Linked DNA regions of Homo sapiens: all the other regions are reported to be linked to region 1. The links are microRNA targets in miRTarBase. Many come from high-throughput screens and were not tested one by one. Region 1 holds a microRNA gene; each other region holds the end of a gene's coding sequence.
What was found. Region 1 holds the annotated microRNA hsa-miR-551b-3p (GCGACCCAUACUUGGUUUCAG, at 914-934, shown strand). A microRNA usually pairs through its seed, bases 2 to 8, with sites in the 3' UTR of a target mRNA and lowers its output. Matches are read on the target gene's strand: a 7mer-m8 pairs with bases 2 to 8, a 7mer-A1 pairs with bases 2 to 7 and ends in A, and an 8mer does both.

Region 2: miRTarBase lists AP5Z1 as a target of hsa-miR-551b-3p. Seed matches in the 3' UTR shown: 7mer-m8 at 853-859 and 7mer-m8 at 1,812-1,818.
Region 3: miRTarBase lists MAP3K21 as a target of hsa-miR-551b-3p. Seed matches in the 3' UTR shown: 8mer at 608-615.

The regions. Positions count from the first base shown.
Region 1 is chr3:168,551,001-168,554,255 of GRCh38, forward strand. MIR551B (microRNA 551b) reads left to right here and starts at 854; the gene lies at 854-949. It also overlaps the pseudogene EGFEM1P.
Region 2 is chr7:4,790,805-4,794,059 of GRCh38, forward strand. AP5Z1 (adaptor related protein complex 5 subunit zeta 1) reads left to right here. Exons shown (of 17, transcript NM_014855.3): 16 at 1-83; 17 at 311-3,255. The coding sequence ends at 581. Among named protein-coding and RNA genes, the nearest start is that of MIR4656, 3.8 kb to the left of the region's middle. RefSeq lists a silencer at 1,430-1,549 and enhancers at 1,940-2,019, 2,124-2,798.
Region 3 is chr1:233,382,364-233,385,618 of GRCh38, forward strand. It overlaps MAP3K21 (mitogen-activated protein kinase kinase kinase 21), which reads left to right. Exons shown (of 10, transcript NM_032435.3): 10 at 1-2,785. The coding sequence ends at 348. Among named protein-coding and RNA genes, the nearest start is that of MAP3K21, 56 kb to the left of the region's middle.

The sequences.
Region 1 (3,255 bases):
TGCATTTCCAAACTCAGGTTAAAATGAAGGTCAAGAACTCCTGTTTTGCCATTTCTAAATTATTGGGATTAGGCTATGAGCTTATTTCGAGGTATTTTTCAGTTCTGCTATGCTATGACTCTGATTTTGTTTTTATTTGGTAATCTTATATGGACAATAATTGCATTTTGCAAATTTAAAAGTATCATGCCAACATGGTTTGTCTGTTACTTAGCTTTCATTTTTCTTTTAATGTTGGAAAATTGTGATACAAATTTATAGATCCTAAATTAACAAATTACTCAAGACTTTAGAATTTCTTAAAATGTTATGGTATGCTTTTTTTTTGAAAGCTCTACATTTTATAAAACCAAATTTGTCATACGAAGTTTTAGGTATCAAGAAAGAATTCTGTGGATTTTTGTGTTGTCAGGGTATCTTAGATTGTAATTTTATGTATTTTCCTTTTGGTACCTCATAAAAACTAGAAGGGCTTTCTTGAACTGCATACTTTGTCAATACAATTTGATGATGGAGAAAGACATTTAAGTCCAGAACGATTGGTGTAAAGTACACTGGGTGAGACTGTATAGTTGAATTTTCCAGATGATCGAAAATTGACAGTAAAGAAATATATACAAAATAGATTTTGAAAGAATTGTTGAATGTTTACCTGTCGCTACATATTATCTTGGATACAGTACAGATAATCCGAATGGAAAATTGCACTGAAAATGTCTTCCCCTGAGTTATATTTGCTGGTTCTTACATAAAATGTTATTTATACAACAGATTTTATTGTATCTTCTCTTGCTTTACTCCTTTATCACCTTCTAGCTAACTGTCCTGACTTCAGACCTCTGTTAGATCTGCCAGATGTGCTCTCCTGGCCCATGAAATCAAGCGTGGGTGAGACCTGGTGCAGAACGGGAAGGCGACCCATACTTGGTTTCAGAGGCTGTGAGAATAACTGCAATTTAGAGGGAATACCATTTATGTTTATGCAGGACTTCCAGAGAAAAAACAAAATTTATTATAGACATAAAGAATAAGAGATGAAATTCATGATTATATTGCATTTCTGTTCCAATGGGATTAAAAAAAAAAAAACACGTATTCTAAGTAAGTTGAACCAGGTTGACAGCTAATGATTTGATGTCTCTGTTAATGATTTTAAAACATTGTACAAATCCAAAACTGTTTACTCCTTCAAGGTATACCTCCTTTTCTCCCACTTCTCCAGCTATTGTGGTCCATTTGCCCTTGCTCTGGGCTAGTTCCTTGGTAACTAACAGAAATGGATGGACAGAGATGCCATGACAGGAGTATGGATTTTGCTGGGTCCTCATTTATGCTGGGGCATCTATCAACTCTTTTTCCAACATATTTTTGTTTCCCACACAGCCCCACTCACAGATGCTTGCCTATAGGGCCAAAAATCTCTAGTTAGCAATCTGCCAGAGTCCTGCTTTTTTGTGTAGGAGATTGGAGTTCTTTCAAATAACCCATCTGGTAAGATGTAGAGAAGTAGAGAAACTGAGGTAAATAAAATGTATATTGTTAAGTACTTTATTGCATACTTTGTACCTTTGCTGATAATTAATTTATAGACTATATCTGTTGAGCTGGTGTTGGTTAAGGTTGTATTTGCTTGTTTGTTTGTTCTATACTCTTTAAAAACTTTTGTGGGTGGGTAGGGAGGGTATAATGGTGTTGATGTATGTTGTCATCCCTTAGGCCAGAGGAACCATTTCACAATTACTTTTTATTTTCTCAACAAGAATTCTGAAGGCCTGTATCTTTGGCACAGAAAATTAAGCTATAAAGGCAAGTTCTGCCAAGTATATATTACATATCTCCTGGCCATGGATTTTGGTAGGCTGTGAGAAAAATATGAAAGTCATTTCCAAAGATTTATTTTGTATTTCCTTAATTGACTTTCATATTTGTAATACATTTTCTATTTATAAATGGTATTTCTTTGTTCCACTTAAGGTACCTTAATTTATAAACACACAAAATTAATCAAGGACATTTCCCCATTTTGTTAGGTTCTGAGAAGAATAAACCAAATTCTTCGCCAAGGCTTTTCCTTTTTTGGAAAATGCATTGGATAAACATGGTTTTCTTTGAATTATCTCAATGAAAGAGCTTCTCCCTGGACATTCTAAAGAAGTGCTGTCTGGTAGATTTTTCTGTGTTGACAGAAATGACCTACAATCTGCACTAATTTGACAGACATTAGCCACAAGGCACTTGAAAAATGGCCAATGAACTAAATTTTTAAATTTATATAGCAGCGTGTGATCAGTGGCTACTATATTGTAGAGCATAGTTCTAGAGTACTTTAGTTATTTAGATAATTTTTTATAGATTACAAGTTTACCAAATTCATCTTTATCAATTCTCTTATGAATTTGCTAGGTTTTGGTTAGTAGCTTAAGTTTATGTATTTTAGAGCAGTTTTAATACATCACCATGTGTTTTGACTTAGTACTTTTAGGCTGCTACTAAACCAAACACAATACCATAAATTGGATAGCTTATATAATTTTTTTCTCACAACTCTGGAGGCTGGGATTTCTAAGAACAAGGCACCAGCAGATTCATTGTTCAATGAGGGCCTGTTTCATGGTTCCTAGATAATATCTTCTCACTTTGTCCTTACGTGATAGAGAGGGCAAGCAACTCCTTCAGGCCTCTTTTATAGTGGCACTAATTCCATTCTTGAGGTGTCTGTGCCCGTGACTTAATCACCTCCCAAAGGCCTCCCCTCCTAATGCCATCAACTTGGAGGTTAGGATTTCAATATACAAATTTTGGGGGCAACACAAACATTCAAACCATAGCATTCTTATACAATAAACTACTCACAAAATAGAGAGTTAACTAAAACAATTCTCCAAGTTTTAAACAATTTATATGGTTGCCACTTTATTTTCTATGAAAACAAATTAAATTTCTGCTGAAAGCTAAAAGCTGGCCAATTACCAAGTGATCCCACAGTTATTGAGTGTTACTACTTGGACAGCATTAAATAAACCATTCTTTAAGTTACAGAAAAGATTTGAGGTGATTCCTCTCTTCAGCCATCCTACAGTCTTGATAGAAAGGCAAAACTGGCAGTTATGAAATAATTAAAAATAAATCAGTGCTAAACTCTATTATGTAAAATAGGAGTATAGATGAGGGAGAGATCAGTGTGGATCATAGTAGCCAATCTCTGCACTTTAAAGTTAAAAGGACCCTTAGAAATCATTCATTTGGAGTTTTAGA
Region 2 (3,255 bases), not on the chromosome of region 1:
CCCAGGTGTCCCCCCCAGGTGGTCACCGTGCTGATGACCACGCTGACGAAGCTGGCCTCCCGGAGCCAAGATCTGATCCCCAGGTGCCTGGTCAGGGAGGGAGCGAAGCCTTCTGGCTCCTGGGGAAGAGAGGTGGCTTCTGAGGTCTTCCCATCCAGGTGTTGTGAAATGGTCGCAGCAGCGCAGGTCCTGGGTGGGCCCTGCTGAGCTAAAGCCACTCTGCTGGGCGCTTCAGGCCTGGCCCCTCCACACAGACCCCTGTCCTGGGAGGGGAGCATCTGCAGCTGACGGAGGGACCTTCTTTCCCCAGGGCCTCTTTATTGCTGTCAAAGATGAGGACCCTGGCTCACAGTCCAGCCACCAGCTCCACGCACAGCGAGGAGGGCGCGGAAGCCATCCGTACCCGGGCCACAGAGCTGCTGACCCTGCTGAAGATGCCTAGCGTGGCCCAGTTTGTGCTCACACCCAGCACGGAGGTGTGCAGCCCCCGCTATCACCGCGATGCCAACACGGCCCTGCCCCTGGCCCTGCGCACGGTCAGCCGGCTGGTGGAGAGGGAGGCCGGCCTCATGCCAGGGTGAAGGGACAGTGGCCAGGGACTTCGGTGCAGATTAAGAGCCTGGGCAGCCAGCTTGCTACTGAGGCCAGGCTGATAGGAGCTCAGGAGGGCGCGGGAGTCCTGGGAGAGGAGGCAAGGCCCACGGTGGGCTTGGCACCCTCACAGACACGCGGGGCTGGCCCCCCTGCTCACCCTCTGGGCTTTGTCTCCGAGCCTTTTGCTCCCAGGCAACACTGAGCTGAGCTGAGGGGTGCCATGGAGCGGCTCTGATTGGAGGCTTGAGGCCCTGTGGCTGGGTCGGGTGGAGGCTGCTGGGTCTGTTTCCTAGTCTTTTGTTTTTGGACAGTTGATGGGCAAGAAGAGCTGCAGTAAAAGTAAATCTCCTTTAATAAGCGTCTGTATGAAGAGTGCGCGATCAGTTCCGTTACCTGCCCTGCACCCTGGGGAGAGGACCAGGGATGGGAACCCCTGGCAGCTGCTGCCAGTCCTGGAGGCTCAGCCCGGCGTGCCACTGCTGCTACAGAAACCAGGTCATTTGTGCACAGCCCGGAAGGCAGCGGCGCGAGTTCCCGGGTGTGGTCACCGCTCTGGGTGGTGCGCTTGTCAATGCCCCTTTTGATGCCCTTGAATAGCCTGAAGATGAAGGGGACCGGGGGAGGGTTGCAAGCGCCATGGCCTATGCAGGCTGCGGCCTCTGGCCATTCGGAGGGAAGGCCCCAGGGAGCCACCTGAGTGGAGCTCAGAACACTGGATTCGCGCGAAGGGGAGGTGTCTGGGCGTGCGGCCCCAGCCCCGCCACCTTCCTGGGCCCTGTGGTCCCACCCTCCGGACTACCAAGGCACAGCTGTGTCGCACGTTCCGCCCGGTGCCTGGGACGGGCTCAGCCGCCAGGGGGCGCCGCCGCCCCGAGAGCCTCACGCCCCGCCCCCAGGCTCAAACTCTTCCCCCTCCCCACTCTGGCTCCGCCCCCGGTCTCCTCTTTTGCTCTGGCCCCGCCCACCTCCCCTCCGGCCTCGGCCCCGCCCCCAATCCCCCATAGCTCTGCGACTAAGAAACCACAGGCTGAAGGCGACTGCAGGGTCCTGCCCCTTGCCCAGCCTCAGGACTATGGAGGGGGCGAGTGACGCGCAAGGAACGGAGCAGGGGACACCGTGCGGGCTCAGGAGCTCCCCAGATGCCCGAGCCGAACCGCGGGGTCCTCACCGCCAGGTTCCAGCCCAGGAAGCGCTCGCCTGCCCCACAGCCTGGGCCTTGGGTCGCGTTCCGAGCTCCAGGACGGCTGGTGTCCCCCGCGGCCTGCGATGACAGCCCAGGGCCGCTGAGCCGGGGCCGCAGGAAAGGCTGGCGCTGGCAGGCGCTTCCGTCGGCAGCACTGTGTTTGTGTTTCCACGTGGAAACAGCAGCGCACGTGTACAACTGTGCATACCAAGGCGTGCGTGCCAGTGCGCGGGTCTCGGGATCACTTCCCAGTGCGGTGCACGACCCCGCCTGCAGCAGTGGGTGTGGGGGCGCTGCTGGGCTCATCCCGAAGCTCAGAGAGCGTGGGGCTGCCCCTAGGCTCGGAATGAGTCTCCCACTGAGTCCGCAGCTCCCCTCCTGCCCTGGGGCGGGGCTTCCCTGACCTGAAGGCGTCGGGGGTGTCCTGGCTCCCAGCTCCCAGGCACTCGTGGGGCCACCGCCCAGGCCAGCTGGTGCTAAGTCCGCAGCCTGTGCAGCAGCGCCCGGCTTAGGACTGGGAGTGTGACTTGAAGGGCCGTCCCGCTCATCCAAGGGACAAGGAGGAGCTCATGGCCACAGGGCCTCGGAGGGCATGACCCCAGCCCAGGGAGGAGCAACCTTCAGGTGGCCTCCAGGAGGCAGCTGGGAAAAGGGCAAAGCTCACCAGCTCTCAACTTTTTTTTTAAATAAACTGAAATTTTAGAATAGTTTTTCAGATTTACAGAAAAGATGATAAACCTTAGAAACATTATATGCTAAGTGAAAGTGAGAAGTGACAGCCTGCTGGCAGTCCTCACAGCCCTCGCTCGCTCTTGGCGCCTCCTCTGCCTGGGCTCCCACTTTGGCAGCACTTGAGGAGCCCTTCAGCCCGCCACTGCACTGTGGGAGCCCCTTTCAGGGCTGGCCAAGGCCGGAGCCGGCTCCCTCAGCTTGCGGGGAGGTGTGGAGGGAGAGGCGCGGTGGGAACCAGGGCTGCACGCGGTGCTTGCGGGCCAGCGCGAGTTCCGGGTGGGCGTGGGCTCTGTGGGCCCCGCACTCGGAGCCGCCGGCTAGCCCCGCCAGCCTGGGCAGTGAGGGGCTTAGCACCTGGACCAGCAGCTGCTGTGCTCGATTTCTCACTGGGCCTTAGCTGCCTTCCTGCGGGGCAGGGCTGGGGACCTGCAGCCCGCCATGCCTGAGCCTCCCCCCTCCCCTCCGTGGGTTCCTGCGCAGTCCGAGCCTCCCCAACGAGTGTTGCCACCTGCTCAGGGCACCCAGTCCCATCGACCACCCAAGGGCTGAGGAGTGCCTTTGGAGCAGGGCACGGGACTGGCAGGCAGCTCTACCTGCAGCCCCTGTGCAGGATCCACTGGGTGAAAGCCAGCTGGGCTCCTGAGTCTGGTGGGGACTTGGAGAACCTTTATGTCTAGCTAAGGGATTGTAAATAAACCAATTGGCACTCTGTATCTAGCTCAAGGTTTGTAAACACACCAATCAGC
Region 3 (3,255 bases), not on the chromosome of region 1:
GCTCCTCACAGTCATCTGCCAAGGGAGGTCTCACCCAAGAAGCACAGCACTGTCCACATCGTGCCTCAGCGTCGCCCTGCCTCCCTGAGAAGCCGCTCAGATCTGCCTCAGGCTTACCCACAGACAGCAGTGTCTCAGCTGGCACAGACTGCCTGTGTAGTGGGTCGCCCAGGACCACATCCCACCCAATTCCTCGCTGCCAAGGAGAGAACTAAATCCCATGTGCCTTCATTACTGGATGCTGACGTGGAAGGTCAGAGCAGGGACTACACTGTGCCACTGTGCAGAATGAGGAGCAAAACCAGCCGGCCATCTATATATGAACTGGAGAAAGAATTCCTGTCTTAAACTAAGTGCCTTACTGTTGTTTAAGCATTTTTTTAAGGTGAACAAATGAACACAATGTATCTACCTTTGAACTGTTTCATGCTGCTGTGTTTTCAAAAGCTGTGGCCATGTTCCTAAATTAGTAAGATATATCCAGCTTCTCAAAAAATGTATATGATTGCTGTTAGCCATGTCTATTGTTTTTCCTCTGGATTCTTTTCTTATAACTTGGAATACACAAAAGTGTAAAACAAGAGATGTGCACCAATGAAAACTATGCTGGGTCGAATTACCTTCAGCACAATGTTAATGTTTTTGTTCTCATTTATGCCTTTGTCCATTTGCACACAACAGAAATTGTAATGAGCTTCACTATTTTTGTTTCTTTCCTTCCTTTTTTTTCTTTTTTCCTTTCTTTCCTTTTTCTTGTCTTGTTTCTTGTTTTTTTTTCTTGTAGTTTCTTTTCTTAATTGTCATTTTTGCAACAAAAAGCCAAGAAAGAGCTTTAGTTTCTTGGCAAGAATAATGTGATATTAGTAAGTAAAGGTCTTAAAAGTCTGACGACTGGAATAGATATAAAGTCCTGTTTAAACTACCTAACCTTGGCTGTGGGCCGATAATGCATATGTCCAGTTCTCACTTAAATTATGCAATGATATTTCTCTCTGAGGAAATTATACGGAATGTAACTTATAAAAGCTTTACTGAATATAAGTTATAAGCATTTTATTCATTAGAACTCCAAAATAGATGTTCAAAGTTCAGTCCTTGCCATTTGACTGAGACCACATGGTGTGCCCCTTGAGTGAGGCTAATCTTTAGGTTTTTCCTATAGAAAACATTCTTCCTCCATCAGTAGCCCTTTATTTGATATTCAGAAGTGGAAAGCTTTTTCATTCTCCAGTAGAACTTTTAAAAATTGTTACAGATACCTAGCTCTTCACAGATATCATGTACTGTAAACAGTCATGTGTCTTAATTTTATTTTCTCTATTTGAGTGCATAATTATCCTAATAATCCCAAAGACACTGACAACTCAAGGAACAGCAGTACAGTACTATTAGAAGTTAAGTATGTTGTTGTTATTTCACATTTCATTTAATTGTGGATAAATGTTAGACATCTGTTGAAATAAGCTCATATGGTGGAAACGACAACTATATTATGAATTATTTTCAGAAATGGATCTTTGAATAGCAGATCAGGATTTAAATAATAAAATTATCTATGAATCACTTTTATGGTCATACATATATGATACAAATCCAGAGTTATTGGTGCAGAAATGGCTACCCGAGAGCTTGGTAAATTTGCCTTGGTTTCTTATGTTAAATGTATTGTGCTTCCCTTCTGTCTCTAGAATGTGGCTCTTCAGAAGACAGACAATCGACATTTAAATTTTTCCAAACAATGAAAAACTAAATTAAAAACATTGCTTGATATTTCATTTAAAATTGCACCTTGCTTAAGGTTTACTGAATAACTGAAATGTCAGCAATTTAAAATAAATTCAATTGTGTGATAAAATATCTCACCTATAATAGAAGAAAAGGAAAATCATATTATTTGGCAATTTTGCAGCATTGTGGTTGCCTAACAGGTATATCCAGCAGATGAGAAACAGTATGAAAGGATTGTATTAACATGGTAAGTTTTGCCCTAAGGAAAACGATCTTGCATTCTGGATTCTTGCAGCAAAGTCTCAGATACTTAATACGTTTTCTTGTTTTATCATCTGTTCTATGATTCGGCTTCACTTTGTGTGGTTATTGAATTATGTAACAGAGATTTGGTTTTCCCAAAATGTTATCACATTTGAAACTATGATTGCTTTGTGTTCAGTCCTTTTGGAACACGTAGCTTCCAGCTTAAGGGTAGAGAAATATATACCTAAAATCATCAATACATGAAAGAAAAAGGATGGAAACTATGTCCTCAGTTTTACTTCTACCAAAACATCCCTGTATGTGTGTGCATGTATGTTGGCGTGTGTGTGTGTGCATGCATATTAGTAAATGTGTGTTTGCATGTGTGTGTTGGGGAGTGTATGTGATCTGGGTGTTTGTTTATCTCTGTTATTATTCCCCTTTAGCTTTATTTTAGTCAACTCTACATTATGATGAATTTCAAAATGAAGCTGTATTAAAATAATTGTAATATAACAATTCAATCTCACATGTTACTGCAGATAGTTAACTTTTGCTGCAATCTATTGTACATTTGCAATTTTCTGTGTTAGTAAACTTAGCAGAATCTGGTTATTTATTTTTGTGTAGGCTTAATGTTCACTGAAAGATAAGTCAATTACTGTTAGTAAAAAATTAAGGTACTCTCACTGCAGAGATTTAAGGCCTGGGCCTAATGTGCTGTATTATGAAGCCTTGTGACTGAAAAATATGTTTACATATGTTGTCTATTTTTTTAATAAACTTTTATAGCTGGTCTATTTGCTCAGTAGCTTTGATCCTCTCTTGATTATTGTGACTATAGTTTGCAATGGTTTATTTTGTATTCAATAAGAAAAATTGTGTTAATAAAGATTATTGTTTAATAAGCCAGGTATTAACCTGCTAAATATATTAAACTGAAAATCACTAAATGAGTCATTCAATTAAATACATCAAAAAAGGTAGAATGAAATGTTTTATTTCAAATTTTTTTGGTTTACATATGCATTGAAAAGTTATATTTCATGGTGAGCGTTTTGCAAGTCCAGCTTTTCAGAAGACACACTTTTGCAGAGTGAAATGAGTATGAGAAAAAAATCTCAGTGATTAAGGAGACATGTTGATTTTATTGTTTAATTTTATGTTTAAATCAGAGGAATTTCAAACACCACTTAACATGTAGAAATTCTTACTAAGTGATAAAAGCTTGAGTGAATGAGGAAAGCAGATCGCAGGACTTCATGGAGATCATAGCATTAC